Homo sapiens: one gene and its partner. The protein of the gene in region 2 purifies or fractionates together with the protein of the main gene of each other region. This does not show direct contact. Each region holds a gene or a part of one and is shown on either strand. Other genes may lie near its edges.

The links.
Region 1: the proteins of RNASE4 (region 2) and RNASEH1 purify together in Homo sapiens (co-immunoprecipitation; one large-scale study listed by IntAct). This does not show direct contact.

The regions. Positions count from the first base shown.
Region 1 is NC_000002.12:3,544,834-3,548,333, forward strand, and holds part of RNASEH1 (ribonuclease H1 isoform 1 precursor), read right to left. Parts: intron 3,223-3,500; coding exon 3,098-3,222; intron 1,059-3,097; coding exon of another isoform or gene 1,039-1,058; coding exon 952-1,038; 3' UTR 1-951. UniProt on the Homo sapiens protein: Endonuclease that specifically degrades the RNA of RNA-DNA hybrids.
Region 2 is NC_000014.9:20,694,302-20,698,622, reverse strand, and holds part of RNASE4 (ribonuclease 4 precursor), read right to left. Parts: intron 1-4,321.

The DNA of each region.
Region 1 (3,500 bases), on a different chromosome or scaffold from region 2:
GTGCAATCTTGGCTCACTGCAACCTCTGCCGCCTGGGTTCAAGTGATTCTTGTGCCTCAGCCTCCCAAGTAGCTGGGACTACAAGCCCGTGCCACCACACCTGGATAATTTTTGTAATTTTAGTAGAGACAGGGTTTCGTCATGTTGGCCAAGCTGGTCTCAAACTCCTGACCTCAAGTGATCTGCCCGCCTTGGCCTCCCAAAGTGCTAGGATTACAGAAGTGAGCCACTGTGCCCAGCCGGTGTCTTACTTTTTTTTTTTTTTTTTTAATTTGCACAGTTTTTAACGAAAGAGCCAAATAAATTTTTGAAAGTTTATTTATGCTTCTTGGTCTTTATGAGTCGCAGCTGTTCCTAGAGAATGGCCTAGCAGCCAGGGTCGCCGCAGGCAGGCTTTGCCCTATACTAACTGCCCAGCAAGCAGGCACATGGGGCTGAGACCCAGCACACATCCTGCCCACTGAGCTGTCCGCCCAGGCCCTGGGCAGCATGTTCCTTTAATGTACCCATGGGCACAAGTCACCTATACAAGCAGGAGACTCAAACCTGTCAACTGGACGGTAAATGGATGCTTTCAGAATACTTCCAGACTTCTGAGTTGCATCTTTTAACCAATGGTTTTTTGATTTCTTATCAAAATATAAGCCACAGCATTTTAGGCCATTTGCCTTGCTTGCCTGCAATAAAACAAGCAAGGACAGTATTGAACCCAGTAAACATAATGTGGAAATCTCACATAATTCTCCAATCTCAAAGATGTTCAATTTATTATATACTTAACCATTTTTTATAAACACATGTCACAGAAGGCCACTGTGCCTGATTCCGTGTGAAAGACGCATCTGCCCATCACTGCAATGGTCCTACCTGCAGGCTATTTTCCACACCAGTAAGTACAGGCAGCAAGACAGCCGCTGGCTCAAGTTCTCCCAAGGACTAAAGTCACATGGCTCAGTCTTCCGATTGTTTAGCTCCTTCTCTGGCTAATCTGTCAGCTTCTTCATTGCCTATAAATCCCGAATGACCAGGAACATGCATCTGTTAAGATAAATGTTTTCCTTTTATTTTTACTCATCTTTACATAAGCAACACATGACTATATTGTCATCATAAAAAACCATTCAGAACAGACTGCACAGCATAAGCTCAACTTCAACGCTCCTCTCCCCAGACATGATCCTCAACAGCACGCTGTCCATTCTTCATGCGTTTACGCAATGGATGTGATTTACGAACATTCCATTTTGTTTTTTCACAAATTGGATTTTACCGTTCATGTTGCTATTTCCTCCCCACTTATCAATGGGACTTGATAAGCTTTCCAGGCAAAACACATGTATGTACAGATGGGTGGACGGATATGTATGCAACACACACACACGCTTCCCTTGCAGTGCTGTCAGAAATAATGTACTTATTTAACCACTGTTTACATTTATGTTGCCAAAGCAAATTTACACATCAGGCTACCAAACTATTATCAGTGGTTCCAGGAAGGCAGAACAAGGCAGGGTTGAGACAGTGGCTGCAGTGTAATTTGTTCTCTATTGCTTGAAAAAAACTTTTTAATAAACATGATCTATGATTTTAAAAAGTGCTTCCATCTTGGAATAAAAGTTCTATTACCAAGGCTTTAATCATACAACCTTACTATTGTTTGAAACAAAATACACTGATAGTTTTATTTAACATTATGATGCATTCCAAAGAAATGAACAGGGTGACATACAGCTGTCATAGTAATGCCATGTGCCCAGGTTGGGTGTTACTTCGTGTTCTTAACAAAATATAAGGATTGTAGAACATCCCTCAAACCACACTGCCTGTGTATTCTATGCCTAGTGACACTCTCACTAGAATTGTATTACTTGTGGTTGCAGCGAGCCGAGATTGCGCCACTGCACTCCAGCCTGGGCAACAGTGCGAGACTCCATCTCAAAACAATAAAAAAAAGTTTGACATGATTATTGATTTAGTTGTAAACCTTTTTGTCATAAAACAAAAACATATAGGAAGTGACACAAAACAAATGTAATCCCAGCACTTTGAGAGGCCAAGGCAGGTGGAATGTTTGAGATCAAGAGTTCAAGACCAGCCTGGGTAACATGACAAAACTCCATCGCTACTAAAAATACAAAAATTAGCCAGGCGTGGTGGCATATGCCTGTAATCCCAGATACTTGGGAGGCTGAGGCACGAGAATCACTTGAACCCAGAAGGCAGAGGTTGCAATGAGATCACGCCATAGCCTGGGGTGACAGAGTGAGACCTGTCTCAAAAACCAAACCAAAAAACTGTATTACTTGTATGATAAGGAAAATAATCAAATTTGTGTATGTGGGTGGGTTTGTTTTGTTTTTCTGAGACAGGGTCTCACTCTGTCGCCCAGGCTAGAGTACAGTGGTACAATCTTGGCTCACTGCAACCTCGACCTCCCCAGCTCAAGTCATCCTCCCACCTCAGTGTCCTGAGTAACTAGACTACAGGCATGTGCCACTACCCCTGGCTAATTTTTTATTTTTTCGAGAAACAGAGTCTCCCCATGTTATCCAGGCTGGTCTCGAACTTCTTGGCTTAAGTAGTCAGGCCATTTGGGCCTCCTAAAGTGCTGGGTTACAGATGTGAACCACTGAGCCCAGGCTCACATATTTTTTTTTTTTTTTTGAGACGGGGTCTTGGAGTCTCATATCGTTGCTCAGGCTGGAGTGCAGTGGCGCGATCTCAGCTCACTGCAACTTCCGCCTCCTGGGTTCAAGTGATTCTCCTGCCTCAGCCTCCTGAGTAGCTGGGACTACAGGCACACACCACCATGCCCGGCTAATTTTTGTATTTTTTAATAAAGATGGGGTTTCACCATACTGGCCAGGCTGGTCTTGAACTCCTGACCTCGTGATCCACCCACCTCAGCCTCCCAAAGTGCTGGGATTATAGGCGTGAGCCACTACGCCCAGCCTCAAATACGTTGTAATATACATTATGATATTAATATCATGGAAATTGTTATGTCATTAAACCACTTACATAAACCATTAATCTCTAGTAAACTTAGCTTATTTGGTCATAATGGCCATAGGACATGAACATTTAAGATACTCACCCACTGAATGTCCATCCCCTGGGTAAGCCTCTCCAGTGCCACAAAGTCCTCTTTGTTGATCACCTCTTTCCCTGCACTTGTCTTCCACCCATTTTTCTTCCAACCTTGAACCCAGTTAGTTATACCTACAAAAATGCACGATCACTGGTGAGTCAATCTTGAGTGTCCTGCCTTTTTCACCTCCTTAGTCTTACCTCTTATAATTGATCCCACTTGTATTCTGAGTCACCATCCTTGACTCTTCACTTCCTTAGCTGGCCTTAGTTGCTTTGGCCTTTGGCACAGCCTGAAATACCCTCCTCTCTTCCCTTTCCCCTAACTTGTATTCTACCTACAGCTGTCAGCTTAAGATGTCATTTCTCCCAGGAGCCTTCCCCAGCCTCGTAAGCATCCCCTACATGCT
Region 2 (4,321 bases):
TTAAAAAAAAGCAAAACCAGAATACCCAGTTACAGTTCTTAGAAGACAGTTGATAATAGCTACTGTTTGAATGAACTAATAAGTGAAATGAGTAAGCTAATGAACAAATGCAATTAAATGGATAGAGTAAAGATGTTTCCCAGGCTTATGAAATTGACTAATAAGAAAAGCTAAGAAATGTTTAAAAAATAAATTTAAACAGCACAATATTCTCAAAAGAAAACTTGGATTGTGTCTTCTTCTCCTTGCTGTTTCTATGCATAACCTAAAAAATCTAGGCCATGGAGATACATTGCTTTGTCTTGCATCTATTCTTGATGTTCCTTCTGTCTTGTCAATAGTTGTTGGTAGCTGTCTGTCTTCTCTGGTTGCAGCATCATTGTGTTGTCACCTCTTGGCAGTGAAAAATAGGCATATATTTTATAGCATTAAAAAAAAAAGCCAGAGTGGCAACAAAAAAAGCATTGCCATGTAGTTTCAGAACATTCATTGCTTTCATTGACAGATTAAAGAAAGGAATCCAGGCCTATCTTAGTCTACACCCTGTGCTCTTTCCACTATCTACTGCCTCTCTCATCCCACACCCAAAATATTCAGGATATCAAAGACATTTATGCTCAGAATTGCTACTTCCCAGCAGCAGAGTTTAATCAAGACTGGAGGTGGACTCACTCACCAACTGACTAGCCAGATGCTGCCATCTGGCCGTCACTCCTGGAATTGATGTGAATTGTGAATCGGCTTGATTCTTGCAGTGTAGCAGGGCTGATTCACTACAGCAAAGAAAAATCATCCCTGATTCAATAGGAAGTGAGCAACGCAAATTAGCAAGGGCAATGTTTTGAGAGTCAGGCAGCCCAACTCTGTATGTGCAGTCCAAGGACTGACCCCAGTTGAACTCCTAGTTTGATGTATATGGGTACTATTGTCTTTTGATTTCAAATTCTGCTTCGTAATGGTGGATCACACTGTGTGAATGACTGAAATGGCTTCCAAACGACCTGTACCTTACTTTGTTCTGCTGAAAGGCTACCTTTTCATTATTGATAATGAAAGCAGTATCAAACATGGATATTGTTCTTTTAAATGCCACCTCCTATATCCATAGCCATCTTTTGCCTTTGCACATAAAGATATCAAGCTGTATGTCATATCTGTGTGCCTGCAGCTGTAGATGTGAGATACAGTGTTAGGAAGAGAGGGAAGTAAAGAGGTTGTGGGAGGAAGGGCAGATGTTTGATTTCCTTTTTGCCCCAAGAACAATGCATACAACTTCTGAAGGTATACTTAGTACTTGGATTATAGCTTCAGCAGATCAATATACTTTGGTTTGCTCTTCCGGTGGCACCTCGAGTTTCCATGGTTTTATCTACTTTCTCTCATCCTGATTCTTTGTGACCAAAAATATGGTTTAGCAAGATGACTAGCTACAGAGAAAACCTCACCTATGCATGCGAGAGCAGACCCAGGACGTCAGCTTTTCTGCACTACTCAAGTAAACAAGACATAGAGAAATATTTGAGGACAGCAGGCCAGTGTGGATACCAATGGGTGCATCTCAAAGCTGTAGCTACAAGAGAAAATTGAATGATCTCCACATCATCCCAACGCACACTTTTGGGTCAGGATTTTCCCCAAACGCTTTCTCCACTGCACCACCCTGACTCACAGTAAGAACTTCTTTTGACACCGTGGTCTAAAAGACTGAGGCTGTGACCATGAGAAAATTACTTAATCTCTCTCAGCAGATTTCCTCATAAGCAAAATGAGCATGTAATACCTACCTCTTAGGGATGTTATGAAAAGAAAATCAATCTAAGCGCCTATAACAAGGCCTAGCACAGGGTAAATGCTCAGTAAATATTGGCAATTACTGCATTTTTTTTTTTTTACCACTTCCATTTTTCTTGGTTTCCTCTGCTTCTGTCAATCTGGATAAAATAATGAATGACTACAGAGTTGCATATATTATTGACTCCTCTTTATTTCGTAGAGCTAACTGTATTCTCAAGATATTGGAAGTCTGTTTTTAAACTATAAAATATCTCAGCTACTAGATTCCTAGAAAAATGTTTCTTCTCCAAATTGCATGGAATTTTCTTCCTTGCATGTCACTATTCTTCAAAGCATTTAGCATTTTGGAGTGTTCCTTCTTTTTCCTTGCAAAGCCAACAATCACAGCTGACCAGGACTTCAATTCTTCAATTGATTCACGCAGGATAAAATGACCTGCCTGTGACTTGACGTTTTATTTTAAACAGCTTGTGGTTGTGATAGAACAAGAGGCCCAGACCAAAAAGGACTAGGAATGCTTGCTCAGGTGCCAGTACCATCGGCAGGTCAGGAAACACTCCCATCCCACTGCCATGTGATTTCCTATGAAACAGCGATTTCCCTGAACACCAGAGCAAACTATGCGATGATAATGCTCCAAGCAGATGTTTGGAGAAGATGTGGGTTTTCACAGCTTATGCTGTGATCAATATAATAATGGTCCATGCCTTTCACTTGCCCTATCAAGGCCTTGAGTGGCAGCGATGATCTTGAGTAACTTTGCCTCACCTCAAGGAAATAGCACTGGTTGGAGAACTTGAGAAAAGGGCCCAAATAGTTTACCAGAAACTGGGACTTTCTCATTTCCTGAGAGGTTTTTGAGATTTGGTAATATGGCAAATTTTCTAGTGACAGAGGTTTGGAATACTTTTTCCTATTTTCTTAAGGAATGACAGTGTTTTCAGTTTTGAAACAGACTAACCCAAGGAAGAGAGATTCTTGTGCTAAGCACATACCAGCTACCTACTTCTCAAACCCATTCCTAAATTTGAATACTTTCAGTGAGGCTGGGCTCTCCTAGGTGGTACCTGGACAATGTTCTATAACCTGAGTATTGGGGAGCCACGGCTTTTGGCCCATTTCAGGGCAATACCAGGAGCAGGAGAAGCCACCATAGGGAATACTGAGACCACAATAATTATGTGTTCACAAGGCAGTGAAACTGGCGACTTATAACTAATTTATTGGCAACCACTTTCTAAATAAAATATCCAAGTACCTGTCAACAGAAATTAGTTAACAGGAAGCTAACCACTGAGTCTGTAGATTGAACAGTGTATTTTACAAAGAGTGTGTTAACCTAAGTTATGTTAACTTAAAAACAAATCTTGAGAATTGAGGAAGAATAAGGGATAAACTGGGATAAACTGGGATCTTTCTTTTTTTTTTTTTTTTGAGATGGAGTCTCGCTCTGTCGCCCAGGCTGGAGTGCAGTGGCGTGATCTCGGCTCAGTGCAACCTCCGCCTCCTAGGTTCAAGCGATTCTCCTGCCTCAGCCTCCCGAGTAGCTGGGACTATAGGTGTGTGCCACCACGCCCAGCTAATTTTCACATTTTTAGTAGAGACAAGGTTTCACCATGTTGTCCAGGATGGTCTTGATCTCTTGACCTCGTGATCTGTCCGCCTCAGCTTCCCAAAGTGCTGGATTACAGGCGTGAGCCACAGCGCCTGGCCGGAATCTTCTATAACTTCCCCAAAACATCACACTTGCCAGACATTAGTTGATAAAGTAAAAGATTACAGAGGAAATAATGTAATTGGTTTTTGAATTTTATATAAAATAACCATGACAAGAGAATATCCTGGGAGCATTCCATTCAAACATCAAAATTATCTCTCGCTTAAGACAAAAGGTGGCTACCCTGAATGAATTTTGGTATTCATGCTGGATTACATATGTGTATATGTGTGTGTGTGTGTGTAAGAGTGAGAGAAACTATAATAATCTGTTGGTATGTTGGTACTTGGTCCTTGGAAACTTCTCTCCAAGGTCTCATATTTGTAGAAGTAATATTAGCTTATTATTTGACAGAAAAAACAATTTGCCTATCTTGGAAATTCTGCTTAGTAGCTACGAGCCCTGGAATTTTTCCATCTCTCTCTGTAGATCAACATACCATACTTTCCTTCACAGAGAGGTAAAGTCTACCTCCCTAATGACTTGTAAAAACTGACTGATAAGGAAAAAGTGGCCCGGCTCAGTGGCTCATGCCTGTAATCCCAGCACTTTGAGAGGCCAAGGTGGGCGGATCTCCCGAGGTCAGGAGTTCAAGACCAACCTGGCCAAAACGGTGAAACCCTGTCTCTACTAAAAACACAAAAATTAGCCAGGTGTGGTGGTGCATGCCTGTAATCTCAGCTATTTGGGAGGCTGAGGCAGGAGAATCACTTGAACCCAGGAGAGAGAGGTTGCAGTGAGCCGAGATTGTGCCATTGCACTTAAGCCTGGGCGACAGAGTGAGACTCCATCTCAAAAAAAAAAAAAAAA